Linked DNA regions of Homo sapiens. The protein of the gene in region 1 purifies or fractionates together with the protein of each later gene. This does not show direct contact. Each region holds a gene or a part of one and is shown on either strand. Other genes may lie near its edges.

What was found.
Region 2: the proteins of SYPL2 (region 1) and GCA purify together in Homo sapiens (affinity purification with mass spectrometry; one large-scale study listed by BioGRID and IntAct). This does not show direct contact.
Region 3: the proteins of SYPL2 (region 1) and TMEM192 purify together in Homo sapiens (affinity purification with mass spectrometry; 2 studies listed by BioGRID and IntAct, with this or other methods). This does not show direct contact.
Region 4: the proteins of SYPL2 (region 1) and RTN2 purify together in Homo sapiens (affinity purification with mass spectrometry; one large-scale study listed by BioGRID and IntAct). This does not show direct contact.

Annotation. Positions count from the first base shown.
Region 1 is NC_000001.11:109,472,976-109,476,545, forward strand, and holds part of SYPL2 (synaptophysin-like protein 2), read left to right. Parts: intron 1-2,605; coding exon 2,606-2,730; intron 2,731-3,570.
Region 2 is NC_000002.12:162,357,585-162,361,154, reverse strand, and holds part of GCA (grancalcin), read right to left. Parts: intron 2,112-3,570; coding exon 1,998-2,111; intron 1,662-1,997; coding exon 1,603-1,661; intron 939-1,602; coding exon 912-938; 3' UTR 1-911. UniProt on the Homo sapiens protein: Calcium-binding protein that may play a role in the adhesion of neutrophils to fibronectin. May play a role in the formation of focal adhesions.
Region 3 is NC_000004.12:165,099,326-165,102,895, forward strand, and holds part of TMEM192 (transmembrane protein 192), read right to left. Parts: intron 1,568-3,570; coding exon 1,303-1,567; intron 1-1,302.
Region 4 is NC_000019.10:45,487,032-45,490,601, forward strand, and holds part of RTN2 (reticulon-2), read right to left. Parts: intron 2,523-3,570; coding exon 2,315-2,522; intron 1,956-2,314; coding exon 1,817-1,955; intron 1,676-1,816; coding exon 1,606-1,675; intron 1,487-1,605; coding exon 1,440-1,486; intron 1-1,439. UniProt on the Homo sapiens protein: Inhibits amyloid precursor protein processing, probably by blocking BACE1 activity. Enhances trafficking of the glutamate transporter SLC1A1/EAAC1 from the endoplasmic reticulum to the cell surface.

The DNA.
Region 1 (3,570 bases):
AAAATATTTCCAACTGTGCTGCCCTTCCCAGAATGTGACACCCTAATCACATCCAGTTCTGGGCACCAGAAGCTAAGAGGAATAAAGAAACTTCTAAGAGGAATCAGATGGCCACAGAACTGACAAAAGATTAGCGAATTCCTATGAGGAAGAGTTAGAGAAGTTCCACTATTACAATGGTGAGGCCACTTTGAGTAAGTAAAGGGTAATGATGCAGAGGCTTCGAGTGACTCTTCTCTACCTCTGTGAAGAAGGCGGGCAGACAGGGCTCTACTGCAGTCTTCATCATTTAATTCAGGAGAGGAGGGTATTTAGGCATTGGAGGGAGGTTTTACTGTCTTCTTTCCCAGATATCTTTAAACATGGAGACAATTCTCATTTGTCTGGAATAAACCTCCTGAAAACAGAGAGGTGCCCATTATTTGGAGAGAGGCCAATGGCTCCAGCATGGAGATCTGCAAGGCCAGGCGCTGCAAGCCGGGGGCAGTGGCACTGGACACCTCGCAGGGGCAAAGCACAGCTGTTGGCAAGCCCAGTCAAGAGTACACTGACAGTGTTACTCTCAGAGAGTGAGAGAGTTCCAGGGCTGGAAAGGGCCTCTAGATTATCTACTCCAAACCCCTCCATTTAAGATGAGGAAACAGGCTGGGCTCATGCCTATAATCCCAGCACTTTGGGAGGTTGAGGCGGGCGGATCACAAGGTCAGGAGACCGAGACCATCCTGGCTAACACGGTGAAAACCCGTCTCTACTAAAAAAAATACAAAAAATTAGCTGGGCATGGTGGTGGGCGCCTATAGTCCCAGCTACTCAACAGGCTGAGGCAGGAGAATGGTGTGAACGCAGGAGGTGCAGCTTGCAGTGAGCCAAGATTGCGCCACTACACTCCAGCCTGGGCGACAGAGCAAGACTCCATCTAAAAAAAAAAAAAAAGATGAGGAAACAGACTCAGAGAGCAGAGTGACTTATCAGAGCTCACCTGGCTAATTAGTGACAGGACCAGGTCTGGAACCTAGGTTTCCATACTCCTAGTTCAGGTCTCCTTTCACTCCATAATGCTAACAAGCATTGGCAAAATAAAGTGCATATAGCTTCTATTCTAGACTCTGGATGCAGGGCTGACATACAGATCAGCTGTCTTCCAAGTGCTTAATGTCCAAGACACTGAGTCTCGAAGAAAGATACAGAGAGTGAACAATTAAGAGAATAAGCTCATTGCTTAATAAGAACATGACATTGTGTACAAGTCAAAGGTAAGTGCACAGGAAATCCAATCTGAGCAGATGATGTGGAGGATAAGACATTTCAATTTCTCACCTCCTTTTCTTTTTTCTTTTCTTTTCTTTTCTTTTTTTTTTTTTTTTTGGCGGTGGGCGGGAGAGGGACAAGGTCTCATTCTGTTGCCAGGCTGGAGTGCAGTGGCACGATCTCGGCTCACTGCAACCTCCGCCTCCCGGGTTCAAGTGATTCTCCTGCCTCAGCCTCCCAAGTAGCTGAGATTACAGGCATGCGACACTCTACCGCCAGGCTGATTTTTGTATTTTTAGTAGATATGGGGTTTCACCATGTTGGCCAGGTTGGTCTCAAACTCCTGACCTCAAATGATCCACCCGCCTCAGCCTCCCAAAGTGCTGGGATTACAGGTGTGAGCCACCGCACCTGGCCTCTCACCTCCTTTTCTAACCAAAGTGTGTTTCCCAGAAAGAAATCTGAAAATCATAGGATGAGGAAATTTTATTTCACTTGAGAGAGAAGGTGTAGTAAAATGTGAGGAAAGGTGGAGAAGAAAACAATTCGAGTGACCTGAGACACCTCTGGATCTTAACACTGAGAAATGGCAGCATCAACAGATGACAAAGGGAAATACCAGTGGGGAAACAGTGGAGACTGATAAGGCAAGTGGAGGGTACTTTTCTCTGGGCTTGAGCCAAGATTGTCACATTGGCCCAGCCAGCACTATTGCTAGAAGGCCATGTGCCTTTTGGGGAAGAGGAATTAGGCTGTCAGTACTATGGGACAGTAGTATGGCCCATCTGGGGTGGCTTGGTAGAAGCTGGCCCCTCCAGCTATACCTCCACCAAGGCAGGAAGCCACTGGAAGTTAGCAACTAGGAAACAAGATTAGATGACTAGTTCAAAGGAGAAATGAAAAGCGTTCTAGGCATGTCTGATCTAGGTTGATGCAGGGGAATCTTTTTGAGTGTGTCTCTCCCTTGGGAAGGAAATTCAAGTCTATCTGTAAGCTAGAAGTTTCCTAAAGCCTGAATTGCAGAGGTTTTGTGTTAGTCATCTTAAGGAGGCTACCTGTGGTCCCCAAGTCATGCCCAATGGAGAGATCTGGCAACTGTCCATTTCCTGCCTCTTCATCTCCCTTGCAGACACCACTCAGTCAACCTTGTATTCATTTGGCTATTTGGTCCAGCAGCCTGAGGCTGGAAGATAAATGGAAGCCATGGGTTTCTACCTAGGAAGAACTTGATTAAAGGGGATCCTCACTCTCCCCCACTCCCGCACTTAATGTCTGCACCTGCGGGGAGTCACGGTTAGTTCTCGACTTTGGCCAGTTGAGGCCTTCTGACTCTCAAAGAGGCTTCACTCTCTCTCAGCTCTTTGCTATTTTCGCCTTCGGGTCCTGTGGCTCCTACAGCGGGGAGACAGGAGCAATGGTTCGCTGCAACAACGAAGCCAAGGACGTGAGCTCCATCATCGTTGCATTTGGCTATCCCTTCAGGTGAGCAAGAATTGGTTCCAACCCAGCACATCATCTCTCACTTGACTGGCAGGACCTGCTTGGTCTCTTCCTCCTCCAGAAACCTAAAAACCATTCATTGCGTGCCACTCCAGATTCAAATAGAATGACAAAACTTAGATCCTTTCTGCTTTTTAGCAATTTCAGACACATTGACCAGAGCAAAACGTAAGGGAAATACAGATTGATCACTGTTATAATAATGTTCCAGTCCATGGACAACCCATGGCAGGTCACACCAGCTCATACAGAAAGAGCCAATGCAGTTTGGGATGGAGGCTTACAGGAACCTGGACAAGCTGGACAGGTCTCTCTGACCCTCAGTAGCCTCCTCTCTGCCTTGAAGGTAGGGAAGCTTATTAGTACTTACATCCTAAAGAGTTGATGTGGGATCCTCAGCCAGTACGACCAGGATACAAGTGGGCACACCTTGACAGGGAGGTAGAAGTGATCTCTTTTCTGGGTATTTGAGAGCTTAGGAAGTAGGGAGCCCAGGTGTTCAGGGGAAAATGGGGATGAGGCTCACCTTTTCAGAAATTTCTAGTATCAGCACCCAAGTTATATTAACTGTCTCATATATAATAGGCTGTGTTTTTCTCTTTAATTTGTCCACTGTCTCATTGGAAAGCCCAATAAAGCCTGAGAATGGGTGATTCCAACCTTATCTTGGCCACTCTGGGCCTGCACTTTCCAGAGGCAGAATGAAGCTGATCTGCCTAGTGGTTTGGCTACCAGAAAGAGAAGAACTACATATATTGCAGTTGTGACCTAAAGGGCCCTGGAGACACTTGGGAATACATGGTCACCATGTCTGGGCAGGGT
Region 2 (3,570 bases), on another chromosome or scaffold:
TCAAATAAGTCAAATGTAAAATTTCTGAACAATTAGAGTGGTTAATTACTTGTTTATTTTTAAGTTTATAAAGAGTTGACATTACATTTAAACAACAATTTAATTAGGACAATTTTGAATGTTGACATATCATCAAAAACATATGCCATTTCTAAAAAGTCTAGATTCAGAGCAGGATGCCATTTTAGGTGAACTATGTCTTCACTAATGAAATAGGACGCAGAGAGAAATACTATGTTTATTAAGAACTTTTTGCTTAGAGAAGACAATAAAACATATTTAAGAAAAATATATAATACAAAAAATAAAAAAGGAAAAAACAATGCCTTCTGTAGTCTTATTTCACTACAGATTGAACTAGGGAGATAATTTTCTTCTTCACAGACAAAGATCTTTAAGTTTCTTTTCTCTGATTATTTGATCAAGGAACAAACTATATTACAAACATGGCACAAAATCCAGGCTTTCATTTCTAGCCAACCCTCAAACACCACCAACTACAAAGAAAATTTAAAAGTCTAATTTGTAACCTTCAGATAAGTATAAATTAGTTTTTTCTAGGCTTTCATTATTTGGCTTCTTATACAATCTATCTTGTAAAGTACATTCCTCTAAATTTACATTATCTAAAATTAAGGCTAAGCATTATTTAAATCAATTAATCATACAATATTTTATGACAATATGCACATATTTATAAAATAACTTTTCCAAAAGCAGTAATACCTCAAATTAAAAAAGAAATCTTTTATTGCTTTGAACTATCTGCTAAAATAAAAACACACAGAAAGGGAAGAGGTTTAACAGGTAGGAAGAACATAGAAAACCCTTAAAAGTTTTAAAGTAGTCCAGTTCACTTCTTCCAAACAAAAGAATTCACAGTGTCTCTTCAGGTTTAAAATTCTAAGCATTCAAATTGCCATAGTGCCCTGCAAAAACTAATACATAAGTGAAATTATTATCTATTAAGAATAAAATGGTTTTTAATTATTTTTGACTAATTATATTCCATAAGAGCATTTTCTTAAGAGAGAAAAGTTTGTTTCCAAGGCTTATAATTCAAGCCAATAAATATCAGTAATGTTGACCCCATAACTTCCATCAGTAAATATAAGAAAAACAAAACAAAAACCCTGAAACATTAAAGCACAGGTAAATATAACTGTCTTATACCTTGAATTTTAAAAAACCCTGAATATCAGGTTAATAGTAACCATTTGAAATGAGAAATGAACAGCTTCATAATCCGTCACGGATTAAAATTTTTCCCTCCCTGAGAAAAAATATCACTACAGTAAACTACCCTTTTTAAAAATAATGGTGGTTTTGGCCCTTAAAAGTGATTTGAAAGATCATTTTTTTTTTAATTCAAAAAACCTGTCATAAAAATTGAAAAGCATATTTACAATTTAACATGAAGTCAAATTGTTTGGCACCTATACCAATATTAATCTTATATTTGTGTTACACTGAAAAATATGGAAAAGTATGTGGCATACCAAATATATTATTTCCAGTACTGGTACTTGGGATCACTTAAATTTTTTTACTAACTGAGAACTATCTAGAATGCAGTATAAATATCAAAAGCAGGATACTCACATCGTCATATATGAAATTCGCAGACCCTTGTTGCAAGTGGTCTCTTTTCCTAAAGAAATCTTTAAACAAAGAAATTACTTTTTTATTGTAATTTAAAATACATAGTTTCAAATATTTAGTGCACCCAGGTACACAAAAAGAATAATTTCATATTCAATTAAATATTAAGTGATTGAATAGCCCTGGCAACAGAGATATGAGAAAAACTTCCAAAAATAACATAACGTTTTTATCATTTATATTCCTTAATATTTGAAGCCTTTAAACTAATTAGATTTAACAGTGAATAAAGGGAGAAAACACATATTATTATAAACTTGCTGGAGGAAATGAGACACATTATTCAAGAAAAATAGCTACATAACACTGTGCACTTAGTTTTAAATAGTCAATACCTGTCAATGCTCGAAGCTTCACACAGCAAGCAACATAATCATCAAAGAAAATTCTGCCATTCTTGCTATAACGTTTAACAATAGTAGTTAATGTTTGAGGACTCAACCTATAACCTAAAAAAGAGATAAATTAAAACTTCTAAATGTAAATAACATAAGAACACTGCAAGATTGCTTTCTCATTAAGTCATAAAATAACTTTCAAAATTCATTCCACAAAAATATAATTAGAAACAAAACACATGAATATTGAAATTCATCAGACAAAGGCTTCACTGTTAATCCTGTTAATCGGTATATAAATATCACAATTCTAACTTTGTAATAAAGTCAAAGCTAAGGAAAAGAAAATAATTCTCTTCTTATGAATTTATCATATATTGTTATTTTGAAATAATGTCTAATTTCATGGGTTTTAATGCTTCAATATTTCAAGTATGTAACTTTGTATAGTTCTTAAAGAATATAAATGCAAAGATTACTAATGATCTTTGTTATTCAAATGATATTTCCCACTGAACATATTACTTGCAAGTATCTTTTATAACTAAGAGAAATTTGAGGATCAACATGATTACTCTACAGGGGAAAAAAACAGAAAAACATTCTTTTTTGTCCTGGAATTCTTAGTGTTTCTTCATACACTGTAATAATAATAACAGCTTTCTCGCTATTTCACTGATTTCCTTGGTTCTTTGTTCAGTAGTCCTGTGATGTCCAAAATCTTTGATTTTTACTTATATCAATGAGAAAGAAGTTTTTGATCATTCACTCCCAGTATGTTTAAATTAATTTTAAATTCTATACATGTATTATTGTTTGATTACTCCTATTTTAAAAAATACATAAAATCTAAAATTTAAAACGAATACAACTGAATAAAAACATAAATTAATATATTCTACTTGCTGTACCCTTATAGATGGTCCTATGCATTTAATGAGATGTATACATTTTACTAAGAAGAATGGTAGCCCAGTATTATTGCCCATACATTACTGGATTTGTAGACTTGAACAAATGACACTAATCAATTCAAAGGTGAAAACAACCAAAATAAATGTAACAGGAGAAAATTATACATGCAGCTATAATAGAATGTAATGTGGGAAAGGTATAAATTGAAAGAAGCAGTAAAACATGCAAACTAATGTAATTATATGCAAATATATTTTGAACTTCATATTAGAGAGTTATGAGCTAAATGTGGTACTGATAAAATTCCTAGATTTTCCCATAGTATTCTCAGAAAAATAATTTGAATATTTTAAAATATACATGAAGATCTTAAATTTGGATAATCCAGAATACCCTTTTTACATTCCACTGCCTAACGGGAACTCTGGAGGTTTTCTTTTCTGCCAAAGATTACATTAATTTCCCAACATTAGGCTGAATTAAGGTCCAGGTTTAATCCATTAGGTATTAAGGATCTATAATTGAACTACATATGTTTATATGGGCTGGACTGTCCCTACTACTAAATTAAAATGTCTATTTATAAAACAAAACCAAACAAATCACTAATTTGACTTATTTAAATTGCAATTTGAGATAAGCCCACTTCCATTGG
Region 3 (3,570 bases), on another chromosome or scaffold:
TCTGCCCACCTCAGCCTCCCAAAGTGCTGGGATTACAGGCATGAGCTACTGTGCCCGGCCATTTACTATAACTTAATGCCAAATTTACCTAAAGAAGTTCAATTTAATTCCATTAAATCTTTAAAATGTCTGCAACGATAAAGAAAAGCAAGTACTCATGCATTCTAAGTCTCATGTGGACCTTCTGATCTTGCCTTCATAAATTAGGACCTGTGTGTTTTCCAAGTTTTCTGTTTGATATAATGCATCTCACTGCCTAACAGTCCTCTATCCTAGGAACTAACCATTACTGTCTCCTACTGCAAGAAAAGCACTGAGCTTCATTTTTAAAAAGTTCCCACCAGGACTGGCTCACACCTGTAATCCTAGAGCTTTGGGAGCCTGAGGCAGGAGGGTTGTTTGAGGCCAGGAGTTCCAGTGACCAACCTGGGCAACATGGTGAGAACCTGCTTCTACATAAAATGTTTAAAAAAATTAGCCGGGTGTGGTGGCATGCACCTGTAGTCTCAGCTACTCAGGAGGCTGAGGTGGGAGGATTGCTTAAGCCCAGGAATTCCAGGCTACAGTGAGCCATGAAGGCCCCACTGCCTTTCAGTCTTGGGTGACAGAGCAAGGCCCTGCCTCAGAGAAAATAAAATAAAATTTAAAAATTCCCTCTCCCTATCCTCAGAAATGTCAAATAGCAACAGCATTTCTATCTTTATGAGATGAGTAAACCACCTGGTAACAAAAGAGGGTATAATTCCACACTTCACACATGCTATGAGGACACCATGTTCATAACAAATAACAGATTTCAAATGAAAATTAAGGCTATATATTTCATAATAAAAGTTCTTTTTTTTTTTTTTTTGAGATGGAGTCTCGCTGTGTTGCCAGGCTGGAGTGCAGTGGCACAGTCTCAGCTCACTGCAACCTCTGACTCCCTGGTTCAAGCAATTCTCCTGCCTCAGCCTCCTGAGTAGCTGGGATTACAGGCATGCACCACCACGCCCAGCTAATTTTTGTATTTTTAGTAGAGACGGGGTTTCACCATGTTGGCCAGGATGGTCTCGATCTCCTGACCTCGTGATCTGCCCACCTCAGCATTCCAAAGTGCTGGGATTATAGGCGTGAGCCACCGCACCCGGCCAAGAAAAGCTTTAAGACATTAAGGTGATCCAAATTTTAGTGGTCAGAACACACATCAACCTTACAAAAATGAGAGAATATATTTGATTCTAAAATCAAACTTCATATATTCTTTCTGCTGTCATTTTTGTCCCTCAAGCACCCAAGTAGCTGAGAGAAAATTGGACATACCAGAGGACTGTATCATCAACGCAAGTCTCTTGAGATGCCTTGTTGATCGGTAGATCAAGTTATAGCCTCGGTTTCTGATTTTGCTGTGGTGATACTGGATGTAGCATTCAAGGAGTAAATGGAGAATCCACAAAATAACTTTCCCAAGGATTATAACCGTCTGAACTTTCAATGGGTTTGTGTAATTTCCTGGGCACTTGTCCTCATTTGGATTAGGATAAGAACAAAGCACACCTGTTAAAAATGCTAAAACAACAAACACGAGCTGGGGGAAAGGAGAGCAGAAAGATTAATATTCAATATTTGTAATTAGGAAGCAATAACTACCATCCCAGCATACATTCTTTTTTTTTTTTTTTTTTTTTCTGAGACAGAGTCTCACTCTGTCGCCCAGGCTGGAGTGCAGTGGCGCAATCTCGGCTTACTGCAAGCTCCACCTCCCGGGTTCACGCCATTCTCCTGCCTCAGCCTCCCGAGTAGCTGGGACTACAGGCACCCGCCACCACGCCTGGCTAACTTTTTGCATTTTTAGTAGAGACGGGGTTTCACCATGTTAGCCAGGATGATATCGATCTCCTGACCTCATGATCCACCCACCTCAGCCTCCCAAAGTGCTGGAATTACAGGTGTGAGCCACCGCACCCGGCTTCCCAGCATACATTCTTATACCTACAGCTTCCCCTGTCCTATTTTTATAAATGAGTTTTTAAATGTATTTTCGTTTTGTTTTGTTTAAATGTATTTTTGTTTTCTGTGTGAGATACGGTCTTGCCCTGTTGCCCAGGCTGGAGTGCAGTGGTGCCATCTCTGCTCACTGCAGCCTCAACCTCCTGGGCTCAAGCGATCCTCCTACCTCAGTCTCTGGAGTAGCTGGAACTACAGGCCTGTGCCACCATGCCTGGCCAATTTTAAGAAGTTTTTATAGAGACAGGTTCTTGCTATGGCACCCAGGCTGGTACAGAGTATGTTACACAAAAAGTAAAAGGAAAGAAGAAAAAGAGGTCACCATCTGGAAACCACAAGGCCACCCCTGCACATGGTGGTACCAAGAAGAAAGCGCTTCAGCTGGGATCTGGGGATCAGGAAGCCATGGTGGAGCCATACCACAGCTACTAGTTCCCTCAAGGAAAGGGGATACCACCTCTCTCCCCAGTGATTCAGTTCTGAACTCAAGTCTCCCACAGTGCACTTCACTGGAGAGGAATCCCAGCTGCAGGGGAAGCCAGGAAATGTGCTGAGGGATACGGTCCCTGCAGACAGGCAAACCTATCAGTAGGAGGCTGAGCAGAGGCTGAGCAAGTCAATCAACTCCATTCACAGTCCTCGTAAATACTCAAGGAGTGGTGAGAATGAGCCCTCTTGATTTTTCACATTGCAGCAGAGAACAACTATAACCCCTAGTGCTTCCAACTGCAATCGTCGAAAGGGAGGAACTGATTAAACAGACTGGCAGTGGAGTCACCACCAGTGAGGCCTGCGATAAGACCTTTTGCACATGTGTTTTTATAAACTCCAGATAGTTGTAATTTTGTCATCATACAAAAATTGTACATATTATTCCACTGCAACTTGATTTGTCTGCTAAACATTATTCCCTAGGTATAAGTAAATTGATAAATTCCTGTGTCAACATATGTAGACTTTTCTGCATCTTTTTTGTAACTGAAAAAGTAATACAAGCACATGGTTAAAAAATCAAGTAGTATTCAAAAGTAAACAGTAAATTATATTAGTGTCTCTTCCACCAAGACCCTCAGTCCTCATTTCAGAGGCAACTAGGTCTGTGAATGCTTCTAGAAATATTCTATTATATACAGGAAAACAGGTCCACAACAGCCCTCTCAACTCCCTTTTAAAAACTGCAGATAGGAACATTCTGTACACAAGGTTGAAAACTTGATTTTTTTTCACTCGACAATGTAATCATGAAGGCTATTCTATGTTAATATACTGTATACCTATCCACCCCATTCTTAACAGTTGCATAGCATTTCCTTATATGAATGGGACACACAGTGTCTTCTGGATGCCAAGTAGCCAGGTAGTTTGTAGTCTCTTGATATGACAGACAACATGGCTATTATCAACAATATCTTTACATGTGTGCAAATATATCCACAATGAATTATTTGAAGATATAAGTAAAAGTGTACGTACTTTTTTTTTTTTTTTTTTGCCCATGACACAGCACTCAGGATGTCCTAAGAACATGTGCCCTACATTTTAAATGTTGATAGATACAGCACAACTGCCCTCTGAAACACTTAT
Region 4 (3,570 bases), on another chromosome or scaffold:
CTTTTTTTTTTTTTTTTTTTTTTTTTTTTTAGATAGGGTCTTGCTCTGTTGCCCAGGCTGGAGTGCAGTGGCATGATCACAGCTCACTGCAGCCTCTACCTCCTAGGGTTCAACTCATCCTCTTGCTTCAGCTTTCAGAGTAACTGGGACTATAGGTGTGTGCCACCACACCTGGCTAGTTTTTAACCTTTTTGTAGAGATGGGGGTCTTACTATGTTGCCGAGGCTGGTCTTGAACTTCTGGCCTCAAGCAATTCTCCTGTCTCAACCTCCCAAAGTGCCGGGATTACAGTTGTGAGCCACTGTGCCTGGCCTGATTTAAATACAGTTTAATTGTGAGTCTTGGTGATTCCAGCCTGTGAAGGACAGAGTTAGGACTAACTGGCAGGGCATATTATCATGTGGCTCCCAGCTGTGCTGGAGAAGGGGCTGTCAGTCCATCCGCCTGTCTCTGGATAGGATGGATGTCAGCAGTCCTGCTAATGTCAGTCTTGTGGGCAACAGCCATCCCACTCTTGATTTTATTTTTATGTTTTTATTTTTTATTTTTTGGTTTTTTTTTTTTTTTTTTTTGAGACAGACTCTTGCTCTGTCACCCAGGCTGGAATGCAGTAGCATTTAACTGACATGTCAGTTAAAATCAAGAGTGAAGGCCAATCTCAGCACTTTGGGAGGCCAACGCGGGCAGATCACCTGAGGTCGGGAGTTGGAGACCAGCCTGGCCAGCATGGTGAAACCCGGTCTCTACTAAAAATACAAAAAATTAGCCAGGCATGGTGGCAGGCACCTGTGATCCCAGCTACTCGGGAAGCTGAGGCAGGAGAATCGCTTGAACCTGGGAGGCAGAGGCTGCAGTGAGCCAAGATCGTGCCACTGCACTCCAGTCTGGGCAACAGAGCGAGACTCCATCTCAAAAAAAAAAAAAAAAAAAGGCAGCAAAGGCTAGGCACAGTGGCTCACGCCTGTAATCCCAGCACTTTGGGAGGCCAAGGTGGGCAGATCACTTGAGGTTAGGAGTTTGAGACCAGCCTGGCCAGCATGGCAAAACTCCGTCTCTGCTAAAAATACAAAAATTAGCCGGGCACGGTGGCCATATGCCTGTAATCCCAGCTACTCAGAGATTGAGGCAGGAGACTTGCTTGAGCCCAGGAAACGGAGGTTGCAGTGAGCCGAGATCACACCACTGCACTCCAGCCTGGGCAACAGAGCAAGACTCTGTCTCAAAGAAAACCCAAAACAAAACAAAAACAAACAAAAAGCCTGTCCCTGGCTGATGCTGATAAGACATGTTACTTAGACTCTGGTTGTATTGGGAAGGTGCTGCAGCCAGGACACCTGTGTCTGGCCGGGACATCTGTCAATGGGACCCCGGTTCTGGAAGGAGATGGTCAGACCCCCATGTTTAGCTGGGGTGCTGACAACTGAGGGTGTCACACTCACCTGGTGCTGCCGGTACAGCAGGGGGATGGTGAATAGACCAATCACTCCTGTGGGTACAGAGATGGGGGCGTCAGGGTGTTCCCAAGAGATGAACAGTTCCATCTGGAGCCCTGTCCCCCACCAGACTCCAAGTCCCCATTTGCCCCTTACGGCCTTCCCAGCTCACCCAGAATGAGAAGAGTCAAACCATTGAAGATGGCACCCACGAAGGTCAAGATGTAGAAGAGGAGGGCCAGCTGGGGGTGAAGGTCAGGGTCAGCAGAGCCCACCGGGAATTCCCTCTCATGCTGTGAATTTACCCAACAGTCGCCCTCCCACCCCCTAGCCATGCAGAGGTGAATGGGGGAACCCAGGAGGGGCTGAGAGCTCCAGGCCACCTTGAGGGAATCCACGAGGTCTTCTACCAGGAAGAAGTGCCGCAGCTGCGTGGCCGCCGAGACCACGCGGGAGGTGATCTGGTGGGACAAACGTTCCGTCTGCTCCCGAGTCAGGGTGAGGTCCACATCCAGGTAGGCCCTGCGGGGACAAAGGAGTGTGGGGCGACTCAGTGGGTGACCAGCTCAGACTGGTGCAGGGGCAGCTGAAACAAGGGAGAGGAATGGCGGTTGGGAGAAGACCAGAGTTAGGACTGAGGGGCAGCTCAGAGGAATCATATGTAGAGGGCTGGGGTCAGGGTCAGGGTCAGGGGAAGGGATCGAGGATGAAGGGTACCAGGTTAGGATCAGAGATTAGGATTGAAGGGTAGGTTAGGGGATCGGGATGAAAAATGATCAAGATGAGTCGGGGTCCGGGTGGGAGTCGGTGCCTGATTTGAGGTCGTGGGTCATGCTTTAGGGTCAGGACAGGGGCTCAGGTCAGGGGCCGGGGGTTCTCACTGGAAAGGGTTGGCTCCATCCCCCCGGTGCACGGCCTGCAGCACTTTGCGGTAAACCCTGAGAGAGATGGTGCCGCAGAGCAGCAACAGAGCCAAGTGCGCGGCCACGGACACGATGCTAAAGTGCAGGAGGCAGAGGAGGGAGACCATCAGGCCTGTGAAGACCACTCCTGACGTCCTCGTGTCCTTCCAGTACAGCAGGTCCGCCACTGTGGAGGGGTGGGGGGCATCAGGGCTTGTACCTGACCTGGCTGGTCTCCTCACCTCCCTTTCCCTGTCCTACAGCTGAAAATGACTTCTCGACACACCTGTTTGAGCATAACCTGATTTCCTTTTTTTTTTTTTTTTTTTGAGAGACAGGGTCTCACTCTGTCACCCAGGCTGGAGGCAGTGGTGCAATCATAGCTCACTGCAGCCTCGATCTCCTGGGCTCAAGTGATCCTCCCACGTCAGCCTCCTCAGTAGCTGGGACTACAGGTGTGCACCACCACTCAGCTAATTTTTGTTTTTGTTTCTGTTTTTAGAGGTAGGTGGCTCTCACTGTGTTGCCCAGGCTAGTCTCGAACTCCTGGCCTCAAGTTATCCTCCTGCATCAGCCCTCCAAAGTGCTGGGATTATACGTGTGAGGCACAGCACACAGCCCGATTTGCAATTTTTTAAAAATTATTTTATTTTATTTTTATTTTTTTCTCTATTGCCCAGGCTGGAGTGCAGTGGCGCAATCACGACTCACTGCAACCTCCGCCTCCCTGGTTCAAGCGATTCTCCTGCCTCAGCCTTCTAAGTAGCTGGGATTACAGGCATGTGCCACCATTCCCGGCTAATTTTTGTATTTTTAGTAGAGACGGGGTTTCACCATGTTGGTCAGGCTGGTCTCGAACTCCTGACCTCGTGGTCCACCCGCCTTGGCCTCCCAAAGTGCTGGGATTACAGGCATGTGCTACCGCGCCTGGCCTTAATTCATTATTTTAAAGAGCTGCATAGTATTCTGTGTTGTGGCTGTGCTCCTGTGCTCTCATTCATTTTATTTAACCATGTACCTATTGCTGGGTCATTCAGTTTGTTTCCTAACCCCTTCACCGCAAGCAGGGCTGCAAGCAACATCCTCCAACAGATATTCTCACCTCCTGGAGTGACTATTTCTGAGACAGATTCCCAGGGTGGAATTGCTGGGTGGACTGGTTGTGTGTCTGTGTGTGTGTGTGTGTGTGTGTGTGTGTGTGTGTTTTGTTTTTGTTTTTATTTTTTTTGAGACGG